Regions from separate parts of the Homo sapiens genome. Here regions 2, 3 and 4 are each linked to region 1. Evidence: fine-mapped expression QTL. A gene starts in region 1. Each other region holds a variant in brackets. All regions are shown on one strand. Distances are from middle to middle. Region 1 holds the start of GMPR2 (guanosine monophosphate reductase 2). Region 2 holds the start of PSME1 (proteasome activator subunit 1). Region 3 has its middle 9.5 kb from the start of CMA1. Region 4 holds the start of NFATC4 (nuclear factor of activated T cells 4).

What was found. PIP is the estimated chance that this variant, and not a neighbour inherited with it, causes the effect.
Region 2: its variant is fine-mapped to the expression of GMPR2 in whole blood (INTERVAL, PIP above 0.99).
Region 3: its variant is fine-mapped to the expression of GMPR2 in whole blood (TOPMed, PIP 0.95).
Region 4: its variant is fine-mapped to the expression of GMPR2 in whole blood (INTERVAL, PIP above 0.99).

Annotation. Positions count from the first base shown.
Region 1 is chr14:24,228,436-24,236,529 of GRCh38, reverse strand. GMPR2 (guanosine monophosphate reductase 2) reads right to left here and starts at 3,601. Exons shown (of 10, transcript NM_001002002.3): 1 at 3,553-3,601; 2 at 3,190-3,311; 3 at 2,932-3,051; 4 at 710-793; 5 at 390-563. The coding sequence starts at 3,276. It overlaps NEDD8-MDP1 (NEDD8-MDP1 readthrough), which reads left to right and starts at 4,163. Exons shown (of 7, transcript NM_001199823.3): 1 at 4,163-4,280. The coding sequence starts at 4,263. NEDD8 (NEDD8 ubiquitin like modifier) reads left to right here and starts at 4,163. Exons shown (of 4, transcript NM_006156.3): 1 at 4,163-4,280. The coding sequence starts at 4,263. RefSeq lists enhancers at 3,973-4,267, 3,434-4,299.
Region 2 is chr14:24,133,383-24,141,477 of GRCh38, reverse strand. It overlaps PSME1 (proteasome activator subunit 1), which reads right to left and starts at 5,284. Exons shown (of 11, transcript NM_006263.4): 1 at 5,177-5,284; 2 at 4,461-4,493; 3 at 4,273-4,335; 4 at 4,047-4,157; 5 at 3,913-3,958; 6 at 3,681-3,778; 7 at 3,361-3,429; 8 at 3,215-3,282; 9 at 3,079-3,133; 10 at 2,918-3,004; 11 at 2,516-2,742. The coding sequence starts at 5,215. The coding sequence ends at 2,662. It overlaps EMC9 (ER membrane protein complex subunit 9), which reads left to right. Exons shown (of 6, transcript NM_016049.4): 1 at 1-40; 2 at 162-371; 3 at 513-589; 4 at 1,864-1,933; 5 at 2,024-2,118; 6 at 2,282-2,513. The coding sequence starts at 174. The coding sequence ends at 2,468. RefSeq lists silencers at 1-53, 4,951-5,240, 5,291-5,710. The variant T/C (reference allele first, on the strand shown) is at 4,235.
Region 3 is chr14:24,513,685-24,521,784 of GRCh38, reverse strand. No RefSeq gene overlaps it. Among named protein-coding and RNA genes, the nearest start is that of CMA1, 9.5 kb to the right of the region's middle. The variant C/T (reference allele first, on the strand shown) is at 4,511.
Region 4 is chr14:24,365,173-24,373,253 of GRCh38, reverse strand. It overlaps NFATC4 (nuclear factor of activated T cells 4), which reads right to left and starts at 5,070. Exons shown (of 10, transcript NM_004554.5): 1 at 4,814-5,070; 2 at 2,660-3,755; 3 at 651-813; 4 at 1-83. The coding sequence starts at 4,913. LOC124903291 (a long non-coding RNA gene) reads left to right here and starts at 3,869. Exons shown (of 2, transcript XR_007064085.1): 1 at 3,869-4,007; 2 at 6,727-7,738. RefSeq lists an enhancer at 2,426-3,269 and silencers at 4,232-4,611, 6,330-6,639. The variant C/T (reference allele first, on the strand shown) is at 3,964.

The sequences.
Region 1 (8,094 bases):
ATGCTGCGAAGAAAATGAAGGCCACTCTTCTAAGGTTGTAAAAAGATAAATCATTATTCATGTGACCCCTTTTTATGTGACTAGTATGTGTCCATTTCAGTGGGCAGATGTCTATGTACCACAGGTATGTACAGTGCACAGATGTTCCATCATGGTTTGGTGAGTGACATCAGGGACATCAGATTTACAAAGACTATGAACCAAGGGTCAGAGATACTACACTGACCAAATAGACATTTTCAGCTTAGAACTATGGATAATCATCCAGTATCATGATTAAATGAACTAGGAATATCATAATGCAGCAGAGGAGAAATGGACTGATGTAGCAAAACGGAGTGGCAGGAAAGTGGAAAGATAAAAAGGTACCGACTGTAATAGAAACATACCATGATGGTGTGCTGGGGGAAGCGCTTCCGTACATCTTTTACAAATTCAACAAAGTGTTCAGAGTAGCCATTTGCCACATCCAGGCATATATACTTCACCTGGGGAATAGCTTCCAGGATCTGTTCCAGCTGCTCAAAGTCAGAAGAGCCTGTGCCTGAGCTGGCAGCCAGATGCTGTGGGAGAAACAGAGTCATTGGCATATCAGAGATGATCTGGTGGGCAGCCAGTGGGTCATTGGTGAGTGCTGGTCCCCAGAAAGCCAAAATATAATTGCTGGAAAACTGGGATAAGGAAGGGAGCAGGGTATGCCCAGTGTTACCTCAAGACAGTCAGGATTCTGGCCAGCAAACTCTTGCCACTGAACGAGGCTATAGTGCTTATGGACAGCAGTGAAGAGAGAGAACTGGGGAGAAGACAAAGAAGCATCAAAAGGGAGAAAACTTTATTAAGGTCTCTTTTCTAGAAACAGACCTATTCTATCTGAGGGAGGACATGATTGAAGTTGGGGAGGAAACAAGTCAAAGAACTCAGGTTGAGCTGGGATTTGAGTTCAACCTTTCTTCTCTCTACAAATACTAGTAGGGCTTTTTACCATAAGCTAGTACTTGTCAGATTTCCCACCAAAGTACTGAGTGATCTGGGTTGGATTTCATCTGCCAGCACATTCACTGCTTCTGACTTAAAAGGTGACAAGCTGCTGGTGCAGTGGGACAGGCAGCAGACATGAAAGAACCATGAAGAAGCTGGATGGAGCCTGTGTTTCTCTGCACTGACTCAGCCCCTCCTCCTAAGGTAACCTAGTACTAAACTATTTTTGGTTATGTTCTCGTTCATTTACCAGCAGTAATTCAGTAGATCTGGATGCTCACCAAAGGTAATGCCTTAAGGTTGATAAGAGCTGATAAGGGGCTACCCTACCCTGTCTCCATCTCTAGTGGAAAAAAGGACAAATTTCCTAGTTGGGGACATGGATCAAGCTAAAAAATCTGTTTCATTCAGTCCATTTTAATAAAGTTCAAGGACATAATGACTCATCAAACTCATATTCTCTAGCTCAACAGATTGCAAACAATATCCCAATACTTTGAGGAAGGCATTCAAAGGCCATTGTGTATGCTGGTGTTTGTGCCTTACATGTCTACATGCAAACAGACAAGAGACAGCAGTTGGCTGAAACAGCACAAATCTTGCAACTAACAAGAAACCCAAGGAAGTCATGTATTAGCTAGCAACAAGTGCTCTACATACGTACTCAGAGATCAACAATATCTAGCTAAAGCTGGTATTGAATTCTGCTTTCTCAACAACTCTATCATCAACATACTGATAAGCAAAGAAAAGTCACCATAGGATAGGAAGTCAGCAGATGTTGGAGATATACTGGCAGAGTGTGGCATGATGAGCACATCAGATTACATACCAAACTTAGAAAAAGATGTTTGCTTGCATCCAACCTTTTTATTACAGTAAGACTTGGCTCTTATCTCTAAAACCTGATTTCTTTACCTCTCGTCAGCAATACTGAAAGCCAGGCTCCACATAAAGCATCAAGACAGTCCCCAAAAAGGTTCATGTATTACAGCACGCCTGTTAACTCTGCAGTCAGAGTCACCAATTCTGAACTCTACTGGTCAGGGCAGATGGACAGTGGGCAACAGAAAGATTCCTAAGCAGTTACTGAATGGCAATAAAAATAAAGTAAAAATAAAACTGCATAACTATCAACCTTAAAGAAATGACAAGACATTCCACAAAGACACAGCAATCAAAAATAGAAAAAGGATATGAAGTCCTTAAGACTAATGGAGCCACAAACAATAGCAGAATTCATCAACCAGGGCTACATGGATCAACCAGCAGAGTGCATATGTTCTCAAAGTGCCCAGATAACTCTCTACCTTCTCAGCAACAAGTATAGAGGCAGGTAATAGTACTGACAGGAGCAGCATCTTCCATTTCAAAGTGAACAACTTGTATATAAGAAAAACACATCCCATTTGGGGCACATCCCAGAAACTCCCAGGAACCTAGGACTTAAAGAAGAGGAAGATTAAAAAAAGAATGGCAGAAGTATTCTTTTATTAATGAATTGTTCTTATTAAAGAAAATTAATAAGCTGCTTCTCCTAGGATCTTCTAGTTAGGATTTTTGAATGCTTAAACTGTAGTTTCTGGACTAAAACAGTGAATGCTTAATGTGGACAATCGCATAACTGAAGGGATGCATGTGACTGTGAGGGGGTGACCTGGGTGGTGGGAAAAGTTGGCAAGGTGTACAAACTGCTAAACAGGACAAAAGGGAAAATTCTGTTCATATATCAGAAATATCGGAGCAGAACTTAGCTTTGAATCTCACTAATTCAGATGGCCTTTTGAACTTATCAGATAAAGGGCTTCAGTAGTGGAAAAAACCGTAAATCAGAGCATCCTGACTGCTAACTGCCAGAGAACTGACTGGGCATGGGGGTGGGGATGCAAACACCTCTGCAGTCAGCTGGGCTAACTGGACACCAATAGGGATGGGGCATGAGGAAAGCCCTACCTTACAGAGAACCTTGGCCATCTCAAAGGTGCCCACAGTATCCATATTGGCAGCAATGATGGGAACCCCAGAGTATGTCTGCTTTGAGTTCCGAAATGAAAAGGATCTTGTGAGATCCACCTGCAGATATGAACAGGAAATTGACCATTTCATTAATCCAAAAAACGTACCATATTAGGACAAGGACAGGCATCTTTCTTGGTTGTGGCCCACCGGGAGCGTGGGGTCAAGAAACAGCAAGTAGAGAAGCTTGCTCACCTCACTTCGAGACTTAAGGGTACTGCGTTTGGGCCTCAAAAGGACATCCTTGAAGTCCAGTTTCACATCGTTGTCAATATGAGGCATGGCGCTTAGCCTCGGGGTAGCGATGAATCTGAGGGCTGGAAGGCAGGAAGTCATAAGGACCAATCTTCCCCTGGGCTTTAACGCCCTGTTACGGCTGGTGGCCTCTCTTCGCTTAAGTTGTGGAAGGTCGGGCAAAGGCCGAAGTGTGGTCCCTGAAGCCTGTCACCTCGACCCATCCCGTGGCTGCGATTACCCTAGGGCTCCATCCCAGGTACTGTTTGTTGGGGAGGAGAGCTGGGAAAGGGTTGTGAGAGACCCTGACGGTGCATTCCTTACCCCGCTACACTTCCTTCTTCTACCCCTGCAAAGAGCAATGGGGCAAGAGGCTGATTTAGGGGAACGAAGGAATGTTGGCGACGGGGGGCGGGGAGGGTTCATAACTAGTTTCCGGAATAGAGGTACTCACTTCCTGTTGCCTTGGTCCAGGCGGCAGTTGACCAAAGACCACCTTGCTTAGCAACTAACCTCGTGCAATCCCGCTAAGCCTTCTGGGCCACGCCAACAGGTTCCTCTAGTTGCCGGCGAGAACTACTAGCCGACGAATTCCAGCTTCGGCGGCGGCAGGGCGAGGCCTTCTGGATAACAGAGTTCACGCACTGAGGTTGCTGTTGGATCCGAGGGGGTTAGACTACAACTCCCAGGGGGAAACGGGCGGGACCGCCTCCTGGCACGATGGGAGATGTAGTTCGTTCTGCCCCCACTTTTCGCTAGCCCGGGCTCGCCAGGGACTCTCAGAATCGCAGAGTCGTCATCTCTGCTGTTGCTAAACTGGATGCCTCATTCCAATTTACGACGTCACTGAACCGAAACGCGGGAGCAACCCTGAGCCTTTCCGGAACCCAGTGGGGGGGGGGGGGGGGGTGGAGCCAGACAGTGACCCGGAAGTAGAAGTGGCCCTTGCAGGCAAGAGTGCTGGAGGGCGGCAGCGGCGACCGGAGCGGTAGGAGCAGCAATTTATCCGTGTGCAGCCCCAAACTGGAAAGAAGATGCTAATTAAAGTGAAGGTGGGAGCACCTCCAGCCTTGCCAAGACGCAGTAGTACTGGGCTGGCAGCAGTGCCTTACGGGAGACGTGGGGAAGGAAAACCACGCCTTTCCCTAGCCTGGAGGACGCTGACTGCCTCAGGGCTCCGCGCGAGGGGTGGTGGGAAATAGGGGGACCCAGAAGGGCTTTGAGAGCGGGGCCCAGGTCCCACCTGACGACCCTGGGGTATTTTGCCATGCCTGCTTTTTTGCCAGGACTGTGCTATCACCCAGAATGGGGTCGCTTTTGTCGGGTCTCACTGTATTCGAACCCCCGCAGTCATAGAGAAGGCCTAGCAGCGGCTTGACTCCCCCGTCTCTCAGATTCTTGGAGTAAGCGCTGCTCTCCATTCTTCATTCCCAGGGTACCTGCTTCTCCCAGTCCCTAACGTAGGTCGCCTCCGAGCACAGCCCTAAAATCGGGGCCTCCCAAGGGCTAGACTATGAGCCTTTACTGGTGGTTGCCAAGGTGTGGTATCTCACCCGTCCTACAGGAACCAAAGCGGGGAGTGTGTTCAGTCAGTACCTGCCTTTCTGAGCCTGGCATCCTGGACCAGCCTCACTTCCTTGGCTGAGGCAGGTTAGTTACCGCTGCCCTAGTTCTTGCTACTAGCCATGGTTTCCTTCATCTGCATCTCTCAACTCCCGTGGTGGTTCTTCACCAATTTCCAGCCCTCGTTAGTCCTATCTGCTGTTTCCTCTTTTGTGCCTTCAGACAGACAGAGACCCCCCCCCCCACGCCCCCCTCAAAAAAACAAAACTGCTGACAAGTGAAGTCTAATGCTAGTTTGGCCTTTTTGTAGCTAAGTAAATCTATCGTTATTTCATCAGCTTCTTAGCATATTTACCGTACATAATAGTCATTCTTAACCTTCTCTTCCCCAGTCCTTCCAAACTACTTCTTAGCTAAGATTTGAGGTCTAGTATTAAAATAGTATGTTAAAGATGATTTTTTTTAACGTTGAGTAGCGGCCTATATAAGAGTCGTAACATCAATTTAATAGGTGAATGGGTCACTGGCGCCATTAAAAAGAGAAAATAGGCTGGGCGCGGTGGCTCACGCCTGTAATCCCAGCACTTTGGAAGGCCGAGGCAGGCCGATCGCTTGAGCCCAGGAGTTGGAGACCATCCTGGGCAACATGGCGAAACCCTGCCTGTACAATAAATTCAAAAAATTAGCCAAGGGTCTGGGCGCATGCCTGTAGGCCCAGCTATTCGGGAGGCCGAGATGGGAGGATTGATTGATCCTGGGATGTCGAAGCCGCGGTGAGCAGTGATGGCACCACTGCACTCCAGACCCTGCCTGAAAAAAAAGGCCGGGCCCAGTGGCTCACGCCTGTAATCCCAGCACTTTGGGAGGCCGAGGTGGGTGGATCACCTAAGGTGAGGAGTTCAAGACCAGCCTGGCCAACATGGTGAAACCCCGCCTCTACTAACAATACAAAAACTAGCCGGGCGTGGTGGTGGGCGCCTATAATCCCAGCTACTCGGAGGCTAAGGCAGGAGAATCCCTTGAACCTGGGAGGCGGAGATTGCAGTGAGCTGAGATGGCGCCATTGCACTCCAGCCTGGGCGACAAGAGTGAAACTCCATCTCCCCCTGCAAAAAAAAAAAAGAAAGAGAGAGGGGGAGAAAATAGGAAATAATATAGTGCTAGGTAAGGATATTGTTTTATGATTTTTTTTTTTTTTTTTTTTGAGACAGAGTCTCGCTCTGTCGCCCAGGCTGGAGTGCAGTGGCGCCATCTCGGCTCACTGCAAGCTTCGCCTCCCGGGTTCATGCCATTCTCCTGCCTCAGCCTCCCGAGTAGCTGGGACTACAGGCGCCTGCCACCACGCCCAGCTAATTTTTTTGTATTTTTAGTAGAGACAGGGTTTCACCATGTTAGCCAGGATGGTCTCGATCTCCTGACCTCGTGATCCGCCCGCCTCTGCCTCCCAAAGTGCTGGGATTACAGGTGTGAGCCACCCTCCCCCGTGCCTGGCCTTTTTTTTTTTTTTTTTTTTTTTTTTTGAGACAGAGTCTCACTCTGTTGCCAGGCCTGAAATTTTTTATTTTATTTTATATGTATATTACACAGGGGGTGTTACTAGTTCATACTAATTTTTAGAATGGATCACTGTCAAAATCTTGAGAAACACTAACTGTTGAATATTTTTATTTGAGACGGAGTCTCCCTCTGTCACCAGGCTGGAGTGCAGTGGCGCAATGTCGGCTCACTGCAACCTCCGCCTCCCGGGTTCAAGCGATTCTCCTGCCTCAGCTTCCTGACTAGCTGGGACTACAGGGTGTGCCACCACGCCCAGCTAATTTTTGTATTTTTAGTAGAAACGGGGTTTCACCAGGTTGGCCAGGATGGTATCGATCTCTTGACCTAGTGATCCGCTCACCTCCGCCTAAAGTGTTGAGATTACAGTCATGAGCCACCGCGCCCGGCCTGTTGAATACTTCTGTTGGCTTTTCAATGCATATGGGTTCTCATGTCCACTAGGTCCAAAGAAGTTAAGTTACTAATGCTAAGTGTTTTGTACACTTTTTGAAAATTTCACTCCACATTAAGAAATTTTATGTCACAACCCATAAGGCACAAAAACTTTGCTATTTGTGATATGCTCTCAGACTTTCAATTCTAAGTTGATTTCATAACCCACTGATGGGTTGAGACCTGCCCACTGATGGGTTGAGACCTGCAGTTTAAAAAGTACTGTTTGAAAGGCCAGGCGTGGTGGCTCACGCCTGTAATCCCAGCACTTTGGGAGGCCAAGGCGGGCGGATCACGAGGTCAGGAGTTCAAGACCAGCCTGGCCAACATGGTGAAACCCCGTCTCTACTAAAAATACAAAAATTAGCCGAGTGTGGTGGCACACACCTGTAGTCCCAGCCACTTGACAGGGTGAGGCAGGAGAATTGCTTGAACCTGGGAGGCAGAGGTTGCAGTGAGCCAAGATCGTGCCATTGCACTCCAGCCTGGGCAACAGAGTGAGACTGTCTCAAAAAATAAATAAATAAAATAACTGTTTGAACAAAAAAATCAATGCTGTGTGTGGAAACTTGAAAATACAGTGTCCTATCACCTGTGGTCTTGCTAAAATGCTGATTATGATTCTGTGGGTCTAAGGTGGGGCACAGGTTTCTGCATTTCTCACAAACTCCCAGGTGATATTGAATGTCTGAGAGCTACACTTTGAATAGCAAGATTCTAGATTTTTTCTGTTTCTTTGAATCCATATTTATGTGGTACTTCTCTAAAATTGCCAGTCTTCTTTCCTGCAACACCCTTCTGCCTTCAAACAGGCCTCTGTGCCCCATCTCTCTCTATCTCCCCCTCTCGCCCCATCCCCTCTTGTTTGTTGCATTTCTTAATTAAATACATAGGAAAGTAGTTACACATGAGATAGCTGTTAATCTGATCTGAAGAAAATATTAATTTAAAAAAGAAAAAAAAGAGCTGTTAATTACCATATAAGTGACATTTTTTATTACAGTTCCTTTTTTTTTTTTTTTTTTTTTTTGAGACAGGTTCTCACTCTGTCGCCCAGGCTTAGGGTGCAGTGGTGCCATCACAGCTTACTGCAGCCTCGACCTCTCAGGCCCAAGCAATTCTCCCATCTGAGCCTCCTGAGTAGCTGGGACTACAGGCGTGTGCTACCACCATACCCAGCCAATTGTTTTATTTTTTTGTAGAGATGCGGTCTCATCGTGTTGCCCACGCTAGTCTAAAACTTCTGGGGTCAAGTGATCTTCCCACCTCATCTTCCTAAAGTGCTGGGATTACAGCCGTGAGCTACCATATCTG
Region 2 (8,095 bases), 95 kb after region 1:
GGCTACCTGCGAGTCGAGTTAGCGTTGTCGCCGAACCGAAGTGAGAGGGCACGGGGAAGGGTCAAAGAGCGTGCCGAAGCGCTGGAGGGAGCTTCACGGACGCGAGCTAGGCACCGGCTCGCCTAATCCGGTACTAATCCGGCTTGCTGCTTCCCGTCCAGGCCTCGCTCGCCATGGGGGAGGTGGAGATCTCGGCCCTGGCCTACGTGAAGATGTGCCTGCATGCTGCCCGGTACCCACACGCCGCAGTCAACGGGCTGTTTTTGGCGCCAGCGCCGCGGTCTGGAGAATGCCTGTGCCTCACCGACTGTGTGCCCCTCTTCCACAGCCACCTGGCCCTGTCCGTCATGTTGGAGGTCGCCCTCAACCAGGTGCCTCCGTTGGATGCCCATCCCCCACCGCGAACCCACCCAACACCCCAGCCCAAGTTCATCCCCGGTCCCTTGGCAGCAGTGCGCATCCACAAAGCCAGCGGCACAATTTAATTACTGATGGCCCCTTTCCTACGACAGGTGGATGTGTGGGGAGCACAGGCCGGTCTGGTGGTGGCTGGTTACTACCATGCCAATGCAGCTGTGAACGATCAGAGGTGAGTGGCGTAGCCAGAGGAAGAAGGAAAGGATTATGGCGGGTTGGGGATTGGAGGAATAGAGGGCGAGGATGCGTGGGGCGGTGGGCGGGGCGGGGGCGCACAAGATGAACCAAGGTCGTTCCTTTTATCTTTCCTTCATCAAACGCTTAGGAGCAGGGGCTTTACACCAGGCACTATGCTGGGTACTGGAGTGAGGGAATATAAAGATGAATAGGACAGAGCCCTGCCCTGGAGTGCCGTTGGGGCGGGGAGGACAACTGTGTATCAACAGACTGATTTTTTTTTTTTTTTTGAGACGGAGTCTCCCTCTGTCTCCCAGGCTGGAGTGCAGTGGCGCAATCTCGGCTCACTGGAACTTCCACCTCCTAGATTCAAGCGATTCTCCTGCCTCAGCCTCCCGAGTAGCTGGGATCACAGATGAGCGCCACCATGCCCGGCTAATTTTTTTTATTTTTTTAATTTATTATTATTTTTTATTTTTAGTAGAGATGGGGTTTCGCCATGTTGGCCAGGCTGGTCTAGAACTTGACCTCAGGTGATCCACGCGCCTCGGACTCCCAAAGTGCTGGGATTACAGGCGTGAGCCACCACTCTCGGCCAACAGACTGATCTTGCTTTAACTGAGGTGTCCCCCAGGGGCTGAAAGAACAGAGAAATCCCAACCAGCAACTTCAAAAATAAGGCAGTTTCCTTATATATATACATATAGGAAAAGACATATATATATATATATATATATTAATCATATACATGGAGCAATTAGAGGTACTGTTTTGTAATTTGCGTTTCTCCCTCACTTAATAAATACTTGACATCATCCCATTTCCACACCAAGATCTACCGTAACAGCTATATAGTCTGAATATGAATGTACTCTAATTTATTTAATACTTTAAACATTGAGGTTGTTTCCAGTGTTTTATTACAGACACTGTCCTATGATTACCATAAATTCTTTATAAGTAGAATTTCTGGGTCAGCATATGTATAGTATGTATACAGTTTCAATTTGGATGGTTATGCCAAATTACCTTCCAAAAAGACCACCTTTGGTTTCCACTCTCACCAGCAATATCTGAGCACCTGTCTCCCACAGCACTCAAGCATCAAGCAGTCGTGCATCAAGCATCCAGCAGGCCCGATCCCCGCAGGCCACCTACAGGGAAAGGCCACAGCTGCGCCCACACCTATGAGACCTGGGAGGCCCAGCTCAAATGGATGGGTTTTGCCCACAGTTGGCTCCTCACTCCTCTGATCTTCCCTCTACACAGCCCTGGGCCCCTGGCCTTGAAAATTGCTGGGCGAATTGCAGAATTCTTCCCTGATGCAGTACTTATTATGGTGAGGCTTGGGTTTCTGGGTGGGGAGGTGAAAAGCAAGTAGGGTGGGGGGACCCTTGAAACTCTCACTTGCCCATCTTTGTCCACTCAGTTGGATAATCAGAAACTGGTGCCTCAGCCTCGTGTGCCCCCGGTCATCGTCCTGGAGAACCAAGGTCTCCGCTGGGTCCCTAAGGATAAGAACTTGTGAGTACCCCACTCCCTCTACCTCTTCTTAGAAGCCCAAGGCTCCTGGGTCTCCTCTGTCCTTGGCCCTGCCCCAAGGGTCTTTCTCTAGACCCAATCTCTGTTAAGTCTGTGTCTGGACCCACTACTTGCTGTTTGACCTCCATGGGGGTTACTATTTCAGAGTGATGTGGAGGGACTGGGAAGAGTCACGGCAGATGGTGGGAGCTCTACTGGAAGATCGGGCCCACCAGCACCTTGTGGACTTTGACTGCCACCTTGATGACATCCGGCAGGACTGGACCAACCAGCGGCTCAACACTCAAATCACCCAGTGGGTTGGTCCCACTAATGGAAATGGAAATGCCTGAGCCAGGGCCAGCGGGGCCCGGTTCCAATAAAGAGACTTGGGCTGATGGGCAGTGGTATAACTATATTTATTGTGCCTGAGAGGCAAGGTGAGGGAAAAATCTCAACAGAAGCAAGTTTGGGGAAAATCTGGAGTCCCCAGTAAAAAGCAGGAAGGTCTCTGCTGTACTCATCACAGAATGGGAGAGAGGGCTCTCAATAGATCATTCCCTTTGTTTCTCCCCTGGGCTTCTTGAGCTTCTCGAAGTTCTTCAGGATGATGTCATATAACACAGCCTACAGGGCCAGGGAGTAGAGGTCAGTCAGAGGCCTCCAGTGGCTCTGTGCCCCATTTCTAGCCTTGTGGAGAAGCTGAGCTTTGTCACCCTTAACCCCTAGCCTGCAGGGTCAGGGAGTGGGTGGCCTGGGAAAGCTGCCTCTGCCCACCCCTGCCCTGCCCTTGCCTCCTCACATAAGCATTGCGGATCTCCATGACCATCAGCCGGATGTCCCGGTACTCTGCCTCATCCAGCTCGTGCACCAGCTGCCGATAATCACCCTGTGGGAAGCTCGGGTCAGGCCTGACCTTACATGTGTCCTTCCCCCATGCACCCTGACCTGGGCCTCACCTACCACATGGGGCTGCTTGGCTGCTTTAGTCACTGCATCACCACGCTCAGAGAAATACCTGTGGAAGGAGAAGTGTGTATGGAGTAGAAGAAGGAGGTCTCCCAAAACAAAAACAGTGTGCACATGGGTGGTCACTCACTTAGAGATTTGAGTGTGGAAGCCTTCTAGCTTGGTGTGGAGGCTGGTCATCAGCTCAAACACCTTCTCCTAGGGAAAAAAAGCAAGGGGGAAAGTGGAAGGAAGCATGGACTAGAAAAGAGCAGGGAAGTGGGGCAGCGCTCTCACCTGGACAGCCACTCCAAAATTGTTACCATCCTCAATCCGAGGTATCTGCAGCTGCAACCAGGTGGTGACCTGGGAAGAGGGAATGGCATAATGCCACATCAGCCCTCTACCCAATTCCCAGTTTCATATTCTCCCTTGCTTCCCTCCCCACACTGGGTGGAGGCGTGCCGGGTCTATCCTGAGCCCCAGGGCCTGGACTTCTGGTTTCACTTGCTGTGCCCTCTCTTGCTAAAACCTGGCAAGTGCCAGGCCCTAAATGGCAGGGACCAAGAGGACAATGGTTTGACTTGAAGCCTGAGAGTTTAAGGGGGAGGGCTTACCAGGTTGAGCTGCTCAATGACATCCTTGATCTCAGGCTTCAAGCGCTGCAGAAGGACCACGATCTTTTCATTGCAGTTCACTGGGCCACAGGGAGGACCTAGAGAGTGAGCAATGGGTCAGTCACATGATTGAGCCTGTGTGAGGGGCGAAGGGGAGACTGGAAAGAAATCCTTAGGAGGAGCTCCTGTGAGTGGGACTCAAGTCTCTTCCCACCATTGTGGTTTCAAGTACCTTTGTCTTCATCCTCCCCCTTCTTCTTTTCATCCTTGTCTTCCTTCTGCAGAAAGAGAGGAGCTCATGAGAGTCAGGACTAAGGTTGATTACCCCCATAGTTGGATCCCTTCTCCCAGGTCTTCCCAGCTTGCCTCCTGCTGTTTCTTCCGCTCCTCTTTCTCTTTCTCCTTGACTGGATCAGGCACTGGGATGTCCAATGGGGCCTTCAGATTGCTCAAGTTGGCTTCATTGAGAGCTGGCTCCTGGTGTAGGGTGGGAGGAGGGCTGGAGGTGAGGGAGTTCCTCTCACCTCACTCTCACAGCCTCCAGACTCTTCTCT[T/C]GGCCTTTACTCCCTAGCTCCCTGCCCAGCCGCGGTACCTTTAAAAATGCATCCAGCTCAGAAATCTTCTTGGGGAAATAGCTCCCGAGCAGGTTCTCTGTCTGTGTGTGAGGTGGGGGTGGAGGAGGATGGGAGTCAGCATCAAATGCCCGTCCTAGGTAGTGAGGCAGGGTTGAGCAGTAGGAGTTGGGCAGGGGTGGGGCCACGCTGATGGGGCATGTCTTACCTTGGTACAGAGGTCTTCACGAAACACATCCACCTGTGGGGCACACGCATCCCTTCAGAAACTTGGCTTTAAGGCCAGTTCATTTGAGGACAGTTCCCTTAGGGTTATGTAGGGCCTGACCTGGGGAAGGGTGGAGGGGATCCCTCTAAGGCCAGACCTGAAGAAAGCGAGATGGATGCCTGTAGGGTGGGTTGGGGTGGTGGAGAAGGTGGATCTCTGCAGACCTGGATCTACGGAAAGTGGAGTGGGTATCCCTGGGGCTGGATATGGGGGATGAGAACATTCCTGGCGGTGAAGGGCCAGTGTTCACGTGAGAACAGATCTCTGGGGTCGCCTGGCAGGTGTGAGGAGGGGTGCTGAGAGTCCTCTGCAAGTAGGACAGGGATGGGGTGGGCCCCGGGACCCTCCCTGAGGGAAAGGCCAGAAGGTAGCTGGGGCAGTCCCGCACCCAGTCTGTGTGTGGCCCCGGCCCCAGGCCAGCGGAGTTCCCCTCCACGCCAGCTCTCCGCTTCACCTCACCCCGCAGAACCACGGCCGCCTCGCCTCTCCCCGCAGGCAGCAGTCGCCGCCCTCCCCGGGGCGCAGGTGCTCCGGGCGCGCCAGCTCGGCCGACTGCCCCCGACTCGCGTGGGAGCCTGGGGGGCGGGTCGGGGATGCCCCCGGCCGCTCCAGCCACGCCTCCCCAGTGGGCCCTTTCTAGACCCCGCGGCGCTCACCTTGGCTTGGGCCTCGGGCTGGACCCTGAGCATGGCCATGACCGGGACGGGGGGCCTAGCGCCGCACAAGGAGTGGAGTGGGCACCGCGAAGGGAAAGCGAAAGCGGTAGGGCGCTCGCACCCAGCTCCGCCTTCCTGGGTAGTGGGGCGGGGAGGGCTGGAGGAGGCGGGGTCGGATGGAGGAGGCGGGGTCAGCCCTGCCATGGAAGGGGCGGTGCCGCAGAGGAGGGCGGCGGGTGAGGCTCCGCCTAGCGCGCACAGGCGCTCTTCACCCACCCTCCCCGCGCCGCCTCGCGAGGGCCAGCTTCCAGGCTCCCCACCTCCGCTGGCCCGGTCCCCGCCTCCCGCCTCCCGCCACCTGCCGCCCGCCGCCTGAGGACGGCGGGTCCGGGTCCTCCCATCGCCAAGCCCAAGCCAGTCTCTCCGCGTCCCAACCTCCACCTCCCGCCTCCCAACTGGCTCCCCACCTGCTCTCTTCTTCCCCTGCTCCGCCTGGGACAGATAAGCTTTACTTAGGGCTCTTCCGTCTTTCCCTAGAGATGGAATAAGACCTGGCCTGTCTTTCCTAGCCTTGCTAGCGTGGGCCTCTGGCTCTGCCGACATCCTGCGCACCTGTAGCAACACCGGCACCAGAGCTGGCAGCATCCCTATCCAAGCCCGGACCAACTCTCTCCTGGACCACGGCTGCAGATGCCATTCTATAACCCACTCTCACGGAGCAGCGGGTTCATGCCTCTCTCTGGCTTAAAACCCTTTCTCAGCTGCCTGTTGACCTTTGAATGAAATCCAAAAGGCTGTCGCACCTGTCTCCCCTTTAAGTCCACTTTCTACTGCTTGCCCCTTCATTCATTACACTTGCAAATATTTGGGCTATTTGTTTCTCAGATGTGTCATGTTCATTTCTGCCTCAGGGCCTTTGCCCTTGCTAATAATCCCTTTGCCTAAAACACCCTTACCCTGGGTGTTGTCATTCGGTTCTCAGTTTAGATGTCACCTCTTCAGAGAGAACTATTTTCATCATCCTTTATAAGGAACCTCCCTCCAAATCTATTACAAATCATCCTGTTTTAGTACATTCATAGCATTTATCTCTCTGATATTAGCCAGGTGTTTTTTTTTTTTTTTCCAGGATAATTTACTGATTTAAACCAGGTTTTGGCAAACGTGTGTGTGTGTGTGTGTGTGTGTGTGTGTGTTGGGGGACGGAGTCTCGCTCTGTCGCCCAGGGTGGAGTGCAGTGGCACCATCTAGGCTCACTGCAACCTCCACCTCCAGGGTTCAAGCGATTCTCCTGCTTCAGCCTACGGAGTAGCTAGGACTACAGGCGCGTCCCACCACGCCCGGCTAATTTTTTGTATTTTTAGTAGAGACGGGGTTTCACCATGTTAGCCAGGATGGACTCGATCTCCTGACCTCGTGATCCGCCCGCCTCGGCCTCCCAAAGTGCTGGGATTGCAGGCATGAGCCACCGCGTCTGGCCAACTTTTTCTATAAAGGGCCAGAGAGTAAATATTTTAGGCTTTATAGGCCTTACAGTGTCTGTCTACTCAACTCTGCCATTGTAGTAGGAAAGCTGCCATATGTAAATGAATTAGTTTGGTGAGATAACATTTTATAGACACTGGAATTTGAATTTCATGTAACTTTCTCCTGTAATAAAATATTCTTATTCTTTTGCTTTTTCAACCATTAAAAAATGTAAAAATGGCCGGGCACAGTGACTCACGCCTCTAATCCCAGCACTTTGGGAGGCCAAGGCAGGCAGATCACTTGAGGTCAGAAGTTCGAGACCAGCCTGGCCAACATGGTGAAACCCTGTGCCTACTAAAAATACAAACACTAGACGGGTGTGGTGGTGGGGGCCTGTAATCCCAGCTACTCGGGAGGCTGAGACAGGAGATCGCTTGAACCTGAGAGGTGGAGGTTGCAGTGAGCCAGAATTGCACTCCAGCCTGGGCAACAGAGTGAGACTCTGTCTCCAAAAAAATAATAAAAATAAAATAAAAATAAAAATGTAAAAAATGTTTTACCTTTTAAAAAAAATTTTTATACAGACAGGGTCTCACCATCTTGCCCAGGCTGGTCTCAAACTCCTGGGCTCAAGTGATCCTCTTGCCTCAGCCTCCCAAAGTGCTGGGATTACACTGCCATCACTGCCAGGTCTCTGTCTTTAAAAAAAAATTATATATATATTATATATGCAAATATTATATATAAAATATATAATAATATATATAATATATAAATATATATATTATACATATATAATTATTAGCTCGCAGGTCATACAAAACTGGCCACAGGAGGGCCAAAGTTTGCTAATTCCTGGTTTAGAGGATAGATGATATACCCATATTATCTAGCTTTGTAATCATGGCTCCTCTGTTTATTAGTTGTGAACAAGTTACTTAACCTCTGTGTCTCAGTGTTTGCAACTGTACAATGGGAACACTACTATCTCAATTTTTTTTTTTTTTTGCCAATCAAGATCAGTACAACCTACCTCATACTTTTATTGTTGTGAGGACCAAATGTGTTAACTTTTTTTTTTTTGAGATGGAATTTCACTCTTGTTGCCCAGGATGGAGTGCAGTGGTGCAACCTCAGCTCGTTGCAACCTCCGCCTCCCGGGTTCAAGGGATTCTCCTGACTCAGCCTCCCAAGTAGCTGGGATTACAGGCGCCCGCCACCACACCCAAGTAATTTTTTTTTTTTTTTTTTGTATTTTTAGTGGAGATGGAGTTTCACCATGTTGGCCAGGCTGGTTTTGAACTCCTGACCTCAAGTGATCTGCCCACCTCGGCCTCCCAAAGTGCTAGGATTATAGGCGTGAGCCACCGCGCCCGGCCATATGCGTTAACTTTTATAAAGAACTTACAGACACTTAGAACAGTGTCTGGCACAGAGTAAACGCAGTGC
Region 3 (8,100 bases), 290 kb before region 1:
CACTGTCAAGATTGTAAATTTTATGGGTTTTTTTACCATTATTTTGTGTTTTTTTAACCACAATTTTTAAAAACTGACCTATAGGACAAACTCTACACTTTCATGGCACATAAGCCCTTCCTGACCCAGCTCTTCTCCAGCCTCATCTTCCACCATTCCTGCCCTCTTTCACTCAACTTTATGCTAGATACTTTATGTAGTTCCGCAAACACCCATCCCTTCTCTTGCCCTCTTTGCATAGGTCACTACTTCTGCACAGAAAGCCCTGTCTCAATTTGTCCAATGATAAAATCTAACCTATCCTTGAGATCTCACCTCAAATGAAGCTGTCACTGCCTTTCCAGGACAGACGAGAGCTTCTCTTACCACCACACAGCACATTATACACCTCCCACTGAAGCACGTGGCTATTCGTGCTGTAGTTATGAGCTTGCAGACTGTGATCTCCTTTGTCTCACCAGGGTCTGGTATCTAGGAAGTGCTCATCCATCTACTTTCTCACTGATAAAGTGAGTGAGTGAGTGAGTGGTATTTTTTTTTATTACATAATGGTAAAGGGATCAATTCAACAAGAAGAGTTAACTATCCTAAATATATATGGACCCAATACAGGAGCACCCAGATTCATAAAGCAAGTCCTGAGTGACCTACAAAGAGACTAAGACTCCCACACAATAATAAGGGAAACTTTAACACCCCACTGTCAACATTAGACAGATCAACGAGACAGAAAGTTAACAAGGATATCCAGGAATTGAACTCAGCTCTGCACCAAGCGGACCTAATAGACATCTACAGAACTCTCCACCCCAAATCAACAGAATATACATTTTCTCAGCACCACACCACACCTATTCCAAAATTGACCACATAGTTGGAAGTAAAGCTCTCCTCAGCAAATGTAAAAGAACAGAAATTATAACAAACTGTCTCTCAGACCACAGTGCAATCAAACTAGAACTCAGGATTAAGAAACTCACTCAAAACCGCTCAACTACATGGAAACTGAACAACCTGCTCCTGAATGACTACTGGGTACATAACGCAATGCAGGCAGAAATAAAGATGTTCTTTGAAACCAACGAGAACAAAGACACAACATACCAGAATCTCTGGGACACATTCAAAGCAGTGTGTAGAGGGAAATTTATAGCACTAAAAGCCCACAAGAGAAAGCAGGAAAGATCCAAAATTGACACCCTAACATCACAATTAAAAGAACTAGAAAAGCAAGAGCAAACACATTCAAAAGCTAGCAGAAGGCAAGAAATAACTAAGATCAGAGCAGAACTGAAGGAAATAGAGACACAAAAAACCCTTCAAAAAATTAATGAATCCAGGAGCTGGTTTTTTGAAAGGATCAACAAAATTGATAGACTGCTAGCAAGACTAATAAAGAAGAAAAGAGAGAAGAATCAAATAGATGCAATAAAAAATGATAAAGGGGATATCACCACTGATCCCACAGAAATACAAACTACCATCAGAGAATACTACAAACACCTCTACGCAAATAAACTAGAAAATCTAGAAGAAACGGATAAATTCCTGGACTCATACACCCTCCCAAGACTAAACCAGGAAGAAGTTGAATCTCTGAATAGATCAATAACAGGCTCTGAAATTGTGGCAATAATCAATAGCTTACAAACCAAAAAGAGTCTAGGACCAGATGGATTCACAGCCAAATTCTACCAGAGGTACAAGGAGAAGCTGGTACCATTCCTTCTGAAACCATTCCAATCAATAGAAAAAGAGGGAATCCTCCCTAATTCATTTTATGAGGCCAGCATCATCCTGATACCAAAGCCAGGCAGAGACACAACCAAAAAAGAGAATTTTAGATCAATATCCTTGATGAACATTGATGCAAAAATCCTCAATAAAATACTGGCAAACCGAATCCAGCAGCACATCAAAAAGCTCATCCACCATGATCAAGTGGGCTTCATCCCTGGGATGCAAGGCTGGTTCAATATACGCAAATCAATAAATGTAATCCAGCATATAAACAGAACCAAAGACAAAAACCACATGATTATCTCAATAGATGCAGAAAAGGCCTTTGAAAAAATTCAACAACGCTTCATGCTAAAAACTCTCAATAAATTAGGTATTGATGAGATGTATCTCAAAATAATAAGAGCTATCTATGACAAACCCACAGCCAACATCATACTGAATGGGCAAAAACTGGAAGCATTCCCTTTGAAAACTGGCACAAGACAGGGATGCCCTCTCTCACCATTCCTATTCAACATAGTGTTGGAAGTTCTGGCCAGGGCAATTAGGCAGGAGAAGGAAATAAAGGGTATTCAATTAGGAAAAGAGGAAGTCAAATTGTCCCTGTTTGCAGATGACATGATTATATATCCAGAAAACCCCATTGTCTCAGCCCAAAATCTCCTTAAGCTGGTAAGCAACTTCAGCAGTCTCAGGATACAAAATCAATGTGAGTGGTATTTTATTAGAAACCCAGAACTTGGAAGGAATAGAGAATTTTGATAGCCAGGCTGACACAAATATTGTCATTGAAAGAACTCATAAGACAGCAGGAGAAAAAGAATAGAAGGTTGAGGCTGGGTGAGATAGTGCCAGTCATCTATCAGGTGGTTCTCAAGGAACCCAGGCCATACAGAAAAGGTTATAAAAATTAGGGGAAGCTGAGCAACTGCAAGAATACACAGAAATAGTGGCACGTGAGGTCCCACAGCACAAAATGAGGATGCAACTAACTGCCCCAGCGTAACACAAAAAGGATGTTATCATTTTCACAAGGCTGGGAAACCCCAGGGCACAGAACCACTGCTTCTCACAGTAGGGGCTGGGAACAGAGTGGTGCCTCCCAGAATCCCTCTGATAAGGATTGAGGCAGGTGGAAGACTGTTCCAAGTGCTGAGAGGTCCTCTTTTTATTTATTTGGCCTTTTAGAGTCCTGGAATAACTTAAAAGAAGACAATTCTGGTTCACAAACTCTTGGAAGAGGTTAGTGATCTTGGGGGCTAATAATGTCAATATTAATAACTAACTTTGAGTACTTACTATGCCTGATGCTTTCCCCAAAAAATATCTAATCCTCACTATCATTAAGCCCATTTTACAGATGTGGAAGTGGGGAGCTAAGAGAGATAAAGAAATGCACCCAAAGTCACAAAGCTGATAAAGGGTGCTACCAGGATTCCAATGCAGTCTGATTCCAGAGCTCTTAACTACGTATTTAATACTTACTTCACCTCGTTCCCAAATGCATGGTGTGAATAAGGCTTTTGTAGGAAAAAGATGTACCCTTTCCTAAGTCTCAACAATGTAATCTTTGCTGTTAATCAGGGACATTTGTCCTGAGAAATTCACCGCTCCTTTCTCTTTACGACATTCCCCTTACAGGGACTGAAAAATCAGTCTTTCACAAGAGATCTTGATACTTAGAGCACTTCCCTATGGCAGCATCAATAAACTAGCCAAATGTTCAAAACTGTGTCAGTTGTGCATAACTTCTAGGGGAAGGAGAAAGTTTTTCCTGGATGTATGTGTTAAGAGATAAGGAAATACAGGAAAAAAGAGCAAATGAAAGGCAGAATCATTATCTGGGACAACATTGATTTCAGATCCTGGAGGGCTAAATCCAGGACTACTCAGAAGTCCTGAGTAGTCCCTCAATTAAGGGAGTACTCACTCTAACTGAAAACACATAAGGGGGGGCGCATAAAAGAATCTTTGAGGCTTGGCCCTCTGACTCCTGCCACACTGCCTCAGGAGTTGGCTGCCTCCATTCCTGGCAACAACCACAAATCGAATGAGCTTCGTGTAAGCATGTGAAAAGGACAGTTTGTGACATAACAGACTTCTTCTAAATCCCACCAGATATGAGATCACCGTTGATAGATTTGATTCTAAGATGCAGGGAACTTTCCATTGCTGGCCTTGCCAATGCTGAGAGCTGATAGAGGGACAGGCAGCATCACAAGGTTTAACGAAAGAACTATCCCAGATTTAAGGGTCTCTACCCAAACCCATGGGAAAGGGATGATTTAAGGACTGCTTAGAATGAACACTGAATAAACGGGGAGACTGGTGAAAGGAGGTAAGACAGAGCAGGAAACAACATAAACCCAACTGTGCTCGGATCTGCAATGAATCTGCAATGGAAGCAAAAAAGCAAAATAAGGGCCGGGTGCAGTGGCTCACTCCTGTAATCCCACCACTTTGGGAAGCCGAGGTGGGCAGATCACTTGAGGTCAGGAGTTCAAGACCAGCCTGACCAACATGGCAAATCCCAGTCTCTACTAAAAGTTCAAAAAATTAGCCAGGCGTGGTGGTGCGCACCTATAGTCCCAGCTACTTGAGGCCTCACCTGTGAGGCCTGAGACTATAAAAATCCTAGAAGAAAATCTAGAAAAAACTCTTTTGGACATTGGCCTAGATGAAGAATTTATGAATAAGACCGCAAAAGCAAATGCAACAAAAACAAAATTAGAAAAATGGGACTTAATTAAACTAAAGAGCTTCAGCA[C/T]AACAAAACAATCAACCTACAGAATGAGAGAACCTACAGAATGAGACAGACCTACAGTACAGACAACATATAGAATGAGAGAAAATACTTGCAAACTATGCATTCAATAAAGGACTAATATATAAGAAACCCAAACAAATCAACAAGAAAGAAAAACAAATAACCTCATTTAAAAAGTGGGCAAAAACCATGCATGGTGGCTCACGCCTGTAATCCCAGTACTTTAGGAGGCTGAGGTGGATGGATCACTTGAGGTCAGGAGTTTGAGACAGCCTGGTCAACATGGTGAAACCCTGTTTCTACAAAAAATACAAAAAATAGCTGGGAGTGATGGTGGGTGCCTGTAATCCCAGCCACTTGGGAGGCCGAGGCAGGAGAATCGCTTGAACCTGGGAGGCAGAGGCTGCAGTGAGCCAAGATAGCGCCACTGCACTCCAGCCTGGGCGAAAGAGTGAGACTTGCCTCAAAAAAAAAAAAAAAGAGCGAAGGACATTCACGGACATTTCTGAAAAGAAGACAAACAGCCAACAAGCATATGAAAAAATGCTCATTACTAATCATGAAAGAAATGCAAATCAAACCAAAATGAGTCACCATCTCACACTAGTCAGAAAGGCTATTAATAAAAAGTCAAAAAATAAATAACAAATAATGGCAAGGATGCAGAGAAAAGGGAATGCTTATTCACTGTTGGTGGGAGTGTAAATTTCTTATGAAAAACAGTATGGAGATTCTGAAAGAACAAAAAATAGAACTAGCATTCAACCCAGCAATCTCACTACTAGGTATCTACCCAAAGGAAAACATATCGTTATATCTCAAAGATTCCTGCACTTGTATGGTTATCATAACACTATTCCCAATAGCAAAGTCATAGAATCAACCTAAGTGTCCATCAATGGAGGACTGGATAAAGAAAATATCTAATCACACACACACACACACACACACACACACACACACACACACACATATACACACCATGGAATACTATGCAGCCATAAAAAAAGAATGAAATCATGTCCATTGCAGCAACATGGATGGGCCTGGAAGCCATTATCCTGAGTGAAGTAACTCAGAAACAGAAAATCAAATTCTGCATGTTCTCTTTTATAAGTGGGAGCTAAACAATGGGTACACATGGACATGGAGATGAAAATAATAGATACCAGGAACTCCAAAGCAGAGGGATTGAAAAATTACGTATTGAGTACAATATTTCACTAGAAGCCCAAATCTCACCATTACACAATATATCCATGTAACAAACCTGCACATGTACCCACTGAATCTAAAATGAAATAAAAATAATGTTGAAAATCATAATAATATGGATTGTGCCTTATAAAATTGAGGGAAATGGTTTGTTGTTGGTTTTGCTCTGCTTCTACAGTCCAGGACAGCAGGATGATGTAAGGAAAGATCATGCAATTGGATATAAGTTCGATACCTAGTTATGTTTATAGCTTACAAAGTTTTTTCGAGTGATTCAAATTATCTGAGACTCAGTTTCTTCATCTGTAAAATAAACACAATAATATTTCTCAGGGTTGATTTGAGGGTGAATGAGATAAAGCACACACCTGAACTCTACCATGTGTCATAGGTTAAAAGATGCACAATATTTCTCATTTTAACCTCTTCACAACAGAAATGAACCTGATAATTAATGACACATTATTGTTTAATTTAGAACAATTTTATTCTTCCTCAGTGGCACATAAAGTAATGAGAGTCCAGGATAATTTCAAATAATGACAGCTGCAGGTATCAATTTATTCTCAAGCCAGGTGTGACTCTCAATGCACAAGTGGGTTACCCCAACCCCTCCAGAGAACACAAATATTCTCCTTTATACATTCCATTTTTTTCTCCATTCATTGGACTAACTCTTCCTCCCACAACCCTTATTACTCAAATTAGTGGAATAGAAAAAGTATGAGTTTCAGAACCAGACAAATTAAATTTTGGCTGTGCTGCTATGTGACATTCTGAACTTCCACTGAGTGCTTCATAATTGTGTATAATAATACTAACCCCAAAAGACTGTTAATAAAGATTAAATGAGAAGATACATGTAAAGTCCTAGCAGTGCCAAACACATTGTAAATTCACCCTTTATTTTTGGTGAAAGAATCCAGACATAATAAGCCAAATATTATATAATTCCATTTATGTCCAGAATAGGCAAAATACATAGAGACAAAGTAGATTATTTGTTGCCAGGGGTTGTGGGGAGGTGGACAATGGAAGTGACTACTCATGAATACAGGTTTCTTTATGGGGTGATGAAAATGTCCTAGATTAAATAGTGTTGATGGTTGCACAACCTTGTAAGTTTGCTAAAGGCACTGAATTGTATATTTTCAAAGGGTAATTTTATGGTATGTGAATTATGTTTCAATAAAAATATAGAAAGAAAGAAAAATTTTGAAAAAATAAATTCTCCCTTTTTCCTTCCTCCTCTCACCACCACATTCCTTTCTTCTGATTATTAGAATTGAAAGAAGGGCTGATACCTAGATCAGGGTCTGGCAAACTATGGTCTGCAGGCCAAATCAGCCTCCCACTTCCCTTTGTAAATGAAGTTTTACTGCAACATGTTCACATCCAGGGTTTACAAATTGTCTATGGTTGCTTTTGTGTTACACAGCAGAGTTGAATAGTTGCCACAGAGACCATTTGGCTCTCAAAGTTGAAAGTACTTCCTACCTGGTGATTGACAGAAAAGTTCCCTAATCCCTGCTTAGAATGGGTGCTACAGCACCTAAAACTCCCCCCTCCATGCATGCTACTACCTACTTCTAGAGAGCTTTTCTGAGTGACAAGTGTGCATCCCTCTTCCTAGGACTCTTGAGAACTCACCACAACTTCTACACTCCCAGAGCAGAGAGTAGAGTCATGAGAATTTCTGATGAGGAAGATAACCATGCCAGCATGAAAGACAGAAATGAGATCAGGTGGTTTCTGTGGCTTCAAGCCATCCCCTTTCTTCTACTTCTAGGGCTATAAAAGCGGGGCCCAGTGAAGGGGTGACAGAACTAGCCATGGTCAGTATGGGCAATGTCGCAGGGAAAATGCAGGCCCTGATCATTTTGCTGGTCTTCCTCTTGCCTCCTGAAGCCACATCTGGTGAGTCTAGGGTGTAACTTCCTGTCCTGTAAGTCCTCAGCCCCTATTCCAAAATCATTAACCTGGGTCAGAGAAGAGCCTAAAATAATGCTGCAGGATATCTTTGCATATGTTCCAAAGGGAGAGCTATACCTAGAAGAGTCATATACTTTCCACAGTTGATGACAGTGTCCCAGGGACAAGAAGAGTAGGGTGGAGAAAGAATCAGAAACTGGCTTTGGAAGTTTCCCTTAACCTGCTTTGCTCAAAATGCCCCCAATTCTTATCCATGGCCCTTCTCTCATATTGAAGAGGGCAGGATAAGGACATGATGAAATGTCTAAAGGAAATGACAAATCAAGCTGGTTAGAAAAAATTTTTTTCACTCTTATGTATGTATGTTATGATTCTCAATTTTAAAAAAATTAACATGGACCATAACCAGAGAGAAGCCATTTTTTTCTGTAGCCAGGTCATAC
Region 4 (8,081 bases), 140 kb before region 1:
AAGGCATGAGGCCGCAGGTTCCTTTCATCTGCAGTGCCGATGAACATCTGTAGGGTCAGTGGCTTCTCACTGTAGCCTAGGAGCTGGCAGAGGGAGAGAGCGGCCACCTCATTGAAATCCCCACCGTCTCATCCTTTATTCATCCCTAGATTTTCAGTCTACCATGGGATGGGAATGGTGAAAGATAAAGGATATCCTGCAAGGGAATCCCTTGGGGAACTGGGCACCCGTTGTGGAGAAAACATGGCCTGGAGTTCACAGTGTTTTTCTTGGAATAAAGCCCAAAGTGGGCTGGGCAAAGGCAGAAGAGCCTCCAAAGAGACTGGCCCAACTCAATACAGAGAAAACTTAACTCCCAGTGACTTTTGTCCTCAGCCTAAACCCTCCCCCATATCTGGCGGGCCACCATTTTCCAGAGTAGACATGAGGCTGGTGTCCCATGGGATGAGCTGAGTGGGGGTGGAAGGACAGGAGTAGAAAGTATATCCGGGTCCTTGCACCCCTCCTCCCCCAACTCCAGCCCCTCCCCCAGGCTGCCTGCAGGGTCAGAGCTGAGAGGGAGTGTGGGAAAGGGCAGTGCCATGTGTCTGCATAGCTGGAACCTATCTGGGAGAGGAGAGAGGATATCAGGCCTGCTGTCTGTCCTTTACCTTGACTACGGGGTGACCGCCAGGGGCAGCTTTGACAGCTCCACGGCTGCCTTCTGTCTCATAGTGGGCCCGGTGGTGGGCTCTAGGCTGTACCTCGATCCTCAGCTCCAGCTGCTCATATTGGCTGGGCAGAGGCCAGTCCAGTGGGGGTAGGGCAGAGGTCCTGGGTGGGAGAGAAGAGCATTGATCATGTGCAGCCTCAGACCCCAGTCAGGCCCGTACTGGATCTGTGAGGGAGGAGGGGGTATGGGTCTGAGAGAAAGGAAAGCACAGAAGAAATAAAGAAGTACATTAACACTTGTGAAAAGAAGGGAAAAAAGAATTTTTTTTAAACTAAAAAAAGGACAAAGAAATGAAGAAATCCAAAAGTCCAGAAGCAAGGGGAAGTAGGGGACAGAGCCCCTTGAGGTGTGAAAGATGACAACAAGCCTAAAACTCCCTTCTTCCCAGCTCTGAGCGCAGGGGTTGGGGTGGAAAGGCTTCACTTGGATACAGAGGATTCTCAAGCCCATCTCAATCCCTAGACCTGGATGGAAAGAAAAAAGAAGTGCCGCTTCAGACCAGAAAAGGCCTCAGATATGAACCCTTTGTTTTACAAATTAAAAAATTGAGGTGCGTTGGCTCACACCTATAATCCCAGCACTTTGGGAGGCCAAGGCAGGGGTAGGGGATGGTGTGAGGATGGCTTGAGCCCAGGAGTTTGAGACCAGCCTGGGCAACATGGTGAAACCCCGTCTCTACAAAAAATACAAAAAGCAGCTGGGCGAGTTGGTGCTCCTGTAGTCCCAGCTACTCCTGCTGAGGCAGGAGGATTGCTTGAGCCCAGGAGGTTGAGGCTGAGTGAGATCACACCACTGCACTCCAGTCTTGGTGACAGAGCAAGACACTGTCTCAAAGAAAAAAAAAAGAGAGAGAGAGAAAGAAACTGAAGCCAGCAGCTACTGACAGACCTAGGACTGAGCACATTCTGCTCTCAAGCCAGCTCCCTTTCCACTAGTTGGGGCTTGATAGGTGGAGTTCCAGGGAGCTAAGGGTTTCAGATGGGACAACTTATCCTGTATTGTGCTCCCTGATACCCTAGGACAGTGGATCTCAACTGGTAATTGCCCCCCAAGTAATTGCCCAGATATTTGGCAATGTCTGAAGACATTTTTGGTTTTCCCAACTAGGGGAGTGGGTGCTACTAGCATCTAACGGGTAGAGGCCAGGGAAGCTGCTAAACCATCCTACAATGTCCAGTACACCCCCACATAACAAAGAATTATCCTGCTCAAAATAGTAGTGCTGAATTAACAGTGCTGAGGTTGAGAAACTTTGCCCTATGGGAAACCCAGGGGTACCAGTGTTAACGTTTCTTTCCCCTAGAAACTTTTCTGGACAGAGCCAGCTCAGTCTAACATCTCAAGATTTAAGATTATTGAAATGGGCAAGATTCTCTGAGGGTGGAAGGAATAGAACTGCAAGTTTTAATATGAATTATTTGACTTGCAAATATATGCTATTTTATTCAAGTTAGCAGCTATACTTTTAAGCTAGTAGGTCAGGCTCTAGAAATTAAGGAATGCAGAAGGGGAATTTCCTGCAACAGAGTGGAAATCTGCTTAGGTCTGGCACCTATTGAAAGGGCCAGAGTGGAAGGCTGAAATCCAGCCCAAGTTCCACACTCAGCCACATGCCAGTGCAGAGCGGGGGCTTGGGAGCACTCTATAGGCTACAGGAACACCTCCTTAACCTAGTTGATCCTCCTACAATAGCTAGGGGTGGGAGGGTGGAGGGGCTTTTTCTAATTGTCCCACAGGGAACTGTTGCCCTCTTGTAAATCATCCAGAGGTGCACTTTTTTTTCTAGTTCTCTTTAAAACCAGGTAGTTGGCAGCTGCTGAGCTGGTTGCAGATACTCTTTTGAAATTCAGAGGGCATGAAACTAGTGTCTTCAAATCCATCCCTTGACCCTCCTGCTCCCCTACTGGAATGGCTAGAGAGAGCGGTAGTGCCAGGCGCAACCCTCACCTGAAGATAGGGCTGTGTCCCCCAATCCGGGCCTTGGACCAAGCGAGTGGGGAGGGCACTGCCAGGTAGTCCATGCCAGCCACCTCCTTCCGGGAACCTCCTGGAGGAGCCACAGACTCCTCTGCTCCCAAGGGCAGCTTCCCATTGCATGAGGCAGGCTCCTCAGACCGAGGCAGAGCCACTGCCTGCTCGCTGGAAGTCCGCCGTGTCTTCTGAGGGATGCTCTCAGCTGGTGGGGCCCCCACATAGTCAAAGGGACCAGGGGAGCCCGGGTCCCGGGCCAGAGGCAATGGGGGTGGTGGAGGTGGCTCAGACCCCTCTTCCCCCAGGCTGCCACGGCGGGACAGAGCTGGGGAGGCTGAAGATGGGGTTCCCGAGCTGGAATAGCGCCGCTTGCCACATGGAGAGGCAGGCCGCGGGGAGGCTGGGGTGGGCCCAGGAGCACTGAGGAGTAGCCAGCTATCCTCTGGCCCTCGGCCTCCGGGGCTTGGACCATACAGGCTCCAGGGATCTTCGGGGGTCCATGGCCGAGGGGAGGCCCGGGGCGAGGGCAGCGGGGAGCCCAGGCCAAAGCGGGAGGCCGCCTCATTTAGCTCAGACTCCACCTCGTCGCAGGCTGCATACAGGGCTGCCTCGTCAGAGGCATCGGAGAAGAAGCTCCACGAGGACAGGCTGCTGCTGCCAGGGCTTGGGCTGAAGAAGGCCCCCCCACCCTGGCCCCCTGCTTCTCTGTAGCCCCCAAAGCCTTCTGGTGGGGGGTAATCTCTAGGAGAGCCGTCCCCCCAGGCATCAGGGTTGTCCTCCAGCGCTGCTGGCGGCTCCGGCGTGGGAGAGATGGAGGTGATGCGGATGCTGGGACACTCGAGAACACGGCCACCCCCAGCACCCCCAGCACCCCCTCCTGGTCCTCCCAGCCTCACCGACCTGGCGGGCTGGCTCTCCCAGGTGCCAGGTGAGGGGGCTGGTCGCGGCGGTGGCGAATGCATGCCAGGCCGAGGGGGTGGAGGTCGGGGAATACCGATAGGTGCAGCGCCATAGGGAGGGGGCTCTCCCAAGGCCAGACGGCAGCATGGCGGGGCATCCTCTGAGTCCAGTTCTGTCAAAATGGGAAGAGGAGCAGAGGGAGAGGGGGAAAGAGAGAAGCAGGTGAGATGGCTATGTTCCTTGAGTGGCCAGGCCGCAAGTCCTTCTATGCTCCCTGCCCCTCAGCAAAGAGACCTTCTGAGCCACAAGACAAAAGCAGAGTTGGACCTGGGAAGATGGAGGAGATTGAAGCAGGCATGCCAGGCCTTTGCCCACTGGCC[C/T]CTGGATCCTAGGACCGAGGGTACCCGATCCAGTGGGTCTTAAGGTGAGAGAGGTGGGTCCAGAGGGGCTGGAGCTGGGGCTGGGCCTGGAGGCGTGTTTCTTGAGGCACTGGGCTGGACTGGGGGCGACTCACACATGAACCCAATTAGCAGCGGTTCCCAAACCCCCAAACGGCGCTGGCAGGAGCCCCAGTTGCCATCGCAACCGTGGCCAGAGGGGAGGGGGGCGTCAGGGCTGTGGTGACGAGGGGAGGTGGCTCCTCCCTCTCTCCTCGCCATCTAGGGGCGGAGGTGCAGCCGAGGGGGTGATGCGTGCTGGGCCCAGCCGGGGGAAGGGGGGCAGCGGGCAGCGCGGATTCGTGCGAGCGGCGGCCGCCGCCCCCGGCTCGGTCCCCGCCATCTGCCTCTCATTGCGGCCAGACGGGGGAGGGGGAGGGGCGCCCCAGCGAGGCCTGACAGCGCCCCCAGCCCCGGGCGTCCAGTCGGCCGGGCCAGAGCTCGGTCCGCCAGGGGCCAGCTCCAGCGCCAAACCTCCCCTTCCCCTGGCGGCGCCTGGTGCTGTTGGGGCCGTAGTTCCCGCCCGCCCCCCAGTTCAGTGACAGGCGGCCCAGCCGGGAGGCGGCGCACAGCCAACAGCACCCCCACCCCCACCCCAGTCACGACCTAAAAAGGAGAAAGTGGTGCCCGGGCCCCCAGCCTCACTTCCGCAGGCCAACGAGTCCCCCCGACTCCCTTCGACCTCTGACTCCCTCACCCCCCACCCTAGGCTCGCTGCCTTAAATTCCCCAGACTCAGGATCCCCGGCCCTCCTCTCACTGACCCCAAGACCCCTTCCCAGCCCAGCACTAACCTTCCCCCAATCCCCCCGCGCCCAGCGGGGGGGCCTCCTTTTCCTCCCCGAACACCAGCTTAAATTCCAGCTCCTCATCCTCGCAGCTGGCCGCCCCCATGGATCCGGCAGGAGCCCCCAGGTCCCGGCCTGGGTGGGAGGGGGGAGTTCAGGAGGCTGCTGTATCTTCACCCGGGTGGCTCCCTCCCTCCCTTTCTCTGAGAAGCCCCCTCCTCCGTCGCTGCCGCCTCCCTCCAGAAGCCCCCTCGTTATTATAGAAACTTTTCCAAACTTTTTTCCCCCAAACTTCTTCAAAGCGGTCCCCCCCCCAGCCTGTCCCTGATTGGCTGCCGGGGATGCTCCAGCCCCTCCTCCAGGGATGAGATGGGAAAACCACGCGCCCCTCGTCCTCCCCCACCCTCCCTCCCTCTGTCCTCTCTTCAGTCCCTCCCCCTCAAAAAAAAAAAAACTGAATTGGAAAACGGTCCTTCAAGAGTGATACTAATGTTGCCTATTGGTCCGCCGTTGTGACAATCATTTCCCGCAGAGAGCCCAGCCCCCACCTCCCCTAGTCTCAGTTCAAGGTTCTGGGTCCGAGAGCCTTAAAGGGGCCACATCCTGGGCCCCCAGGGTAGAGAGCCCACGGAAGACCCTTTTTTAAATTCTGAAGACTGTGTAGATAGCACCTAGCAAGGCAGAACCACTTCTCCTCCCCTTTCCCTCCAAGCCTGAGGCCAGGAGGGTCCTGGGGGCAGAGTGGCACCGAGTTGCTCGGAAGAGGAAAAGGCTATTCTTCCGCCTCCCTTGCCTGGGGCTACTCTGCCCGGGCCTTCTGGAAGTCTTTGCGCTGCCGAATCAGCGCCTCCATCAGCCATTCCTCCAGGACCCCCAAAGATGAAGAACGCTTAGCCAGCCTGGATGCCTCTGGGAGCAGTCCGAGCCAAAGAGGCTTTGAGAACTGTCCCTAGGCCCACAGCCCTTGATGGGCGTAGATCCAGGCCAGGCTTTGCCGCTGCCCTTGTCCCAGCCACCCAGAGGGGCCGTGAATTAGCCTCCACGGGAAGTTGGCAGCCTCCTCCCTAGAACTGTAGTCTGGAATGAATCTCTGACCCGATAGCATCCCACTCCGGCTCTTCTAAAAATCCTTGCCAGGTTTACTAGGGGCCTGAAACCTCCGGACCCTGTGGGTTCCCCTCCTCTTCCCCCTCCTTGGCCCCCCCGCCCCCAACAGGCTGGACACCTGTCACCTGGGCTGGAGGAGGAAGGAAGACCTGGACTGGAGTTTCCGGGAAAGTCAGGCTTGGAGAGGCCTGGGTTGTGTGAGAGGGAGTTAGATGGGAGATTCGTGACTCGGTGGGAGATACTGGCGAGGCTGGCGGGTAGGAGAGATGGGAGGGTGGTTATCATTTTCTCCCACACACACACAGTTTCAACCTCTCTTAGAGGCCGCGTCTCCAGTCTCTAAATCCCTCCGGTTCAGGGCCGCACCCCCAACGCCGCCCCATCCCAGCAACTAAACGGTTAAGCGACGGCCCCAGGTCAGACGTTTACAAACACTCAGAAGCCGGGCGGGGACCGCGCCCGTTACTCTAATGAGAAACAGGCTCTACGGGACTGGGGAAAGAAGGGAGGGCTGGCCCGACGGGCCGGAGCTCCGCAGCGGCCGAGGCGGCTTCCCTCCCTCCCCTCGGTCCTCCCTCGGGCCCGCCCAGGGGACCACCCCCCCAGTCCCCGGGGACCCCAGTGACGTGCGGAGCTGCCCCGGCTCCGAGCCCAGGGCCGCAACACAGGAGGGGCGGGGAGAAGAGCCCAGGCCGGCGGGGAGAGAAGAATGTTCCGAGGCCGAGCGGGGAAGCGGCCTGGTTTGATTTTCTTCTTTCTTTTTTTTTTTTTTCTTTTTTTTTTCTTTTTTTTCCTTTGGTTGGTCTCCTCAGGTTACATTTCCCTTCCAGCTTCATCTCGGAAATAAAGGAAGGAGAAACCCACGGGGAGGGAGGACGAGGAACACCTCGACCCATCAACCAGCCTGTACCTAAGAGGGCAAGGGAGGTGGGAAGCGGAGGCGAGAAAAGCAGGGATAGAGACCCCGAGGCCCAGCCCCTGTTCCCCCAGACTCTGCCCCTCCCCGGCCCCACTCCCCGCAGGCACAGCACATGCAGACGCACACATTCTTTTCAAATGTCATATTTCCTTTGATCCTGGGCAGCGTTTCTCCATGTGTCTGGCTCAGCTCCTGCCCAGCCAACCGCCTTCCCCTCTCACCCCTGTTTGTTTTCCTGGAGAACCCTCCTCCTCCTAGCATCTGGAAGGCCCTGAGGGCTGGCGTCGGCCCTCATTCCCCTGATGACTCTGGCCTCTCCTCCCATGACTCAATTTCCCCTTCATGGGTGTTGGGGGGTAGGGAAGGGAGGAGCAGAGGGGAGAGTGGTTGAGATTGTTCAGAGTGCCAAGCTTCTCTGAGGCGGGGGGCGGGGGGGCATCCCCTTGACTCTGAAAACCCTCCAATCTGTCTCGGCTGCGGCAGAGAGATGGAACTTATGACTTCTGAAATGCTCGGCCTGGCGTTGGAGCCTGGGCAACAGCGGGTAGTTGCGGATTTAAGTTGCCCTACACTTCTGCCCCCTGGCGACCAGAAAGACCCAGCCCCCCCGTCCTTGGTTCGCGGTTTCTCTAGCCGCCTGGCCTCGGTCTCAGCTCCGCTGCCTCCTAGCGCACATACCGGAGCACAACCCGGCTTTCTTACCTTGGTTGGTGGCTTCTGCTCTGCACTTTAACAAGCATCATTCAACTTCCTTGGAGGTGGATGTTATTTATTTCTTTTTTTAATTACACAAGATGCAGTCTTCTCTTTTCCCCAGAGGTCTAAATAAAGCTAATTAATATGCATTCTTCTTGTAAACAATTCAAGCTATACAAAAATATGTAGTAAACCTTGATGGTCCACCATTTTGTATGCCTTTATTAACATGTACGCACACACACATGCTCTTTTTATGCGCGTGACAAGCATTTTTCTTGCTTTTTTTTTTCCTCACTTAACAAATGGTTGGAAGATCTTCTCCCATAGTACCATCTGAAAATGATGATGAAAATGCCCACCTTTTCAGTAGATAAAGTGACTTTTACAAATCAGGTTAGCAATAGAGTTGATCTGGAACCCAGGCCTCCTGGGTCCTTGTCAAGTTTGCTAATTCATTCCATCACATTTTACACAGGAATCTGTCCCAGGCTTGGCTCCTCCAGTAAGTAGAGCCTGAGACAAGAACAGGATGTAGGTAGTTTATAGTGA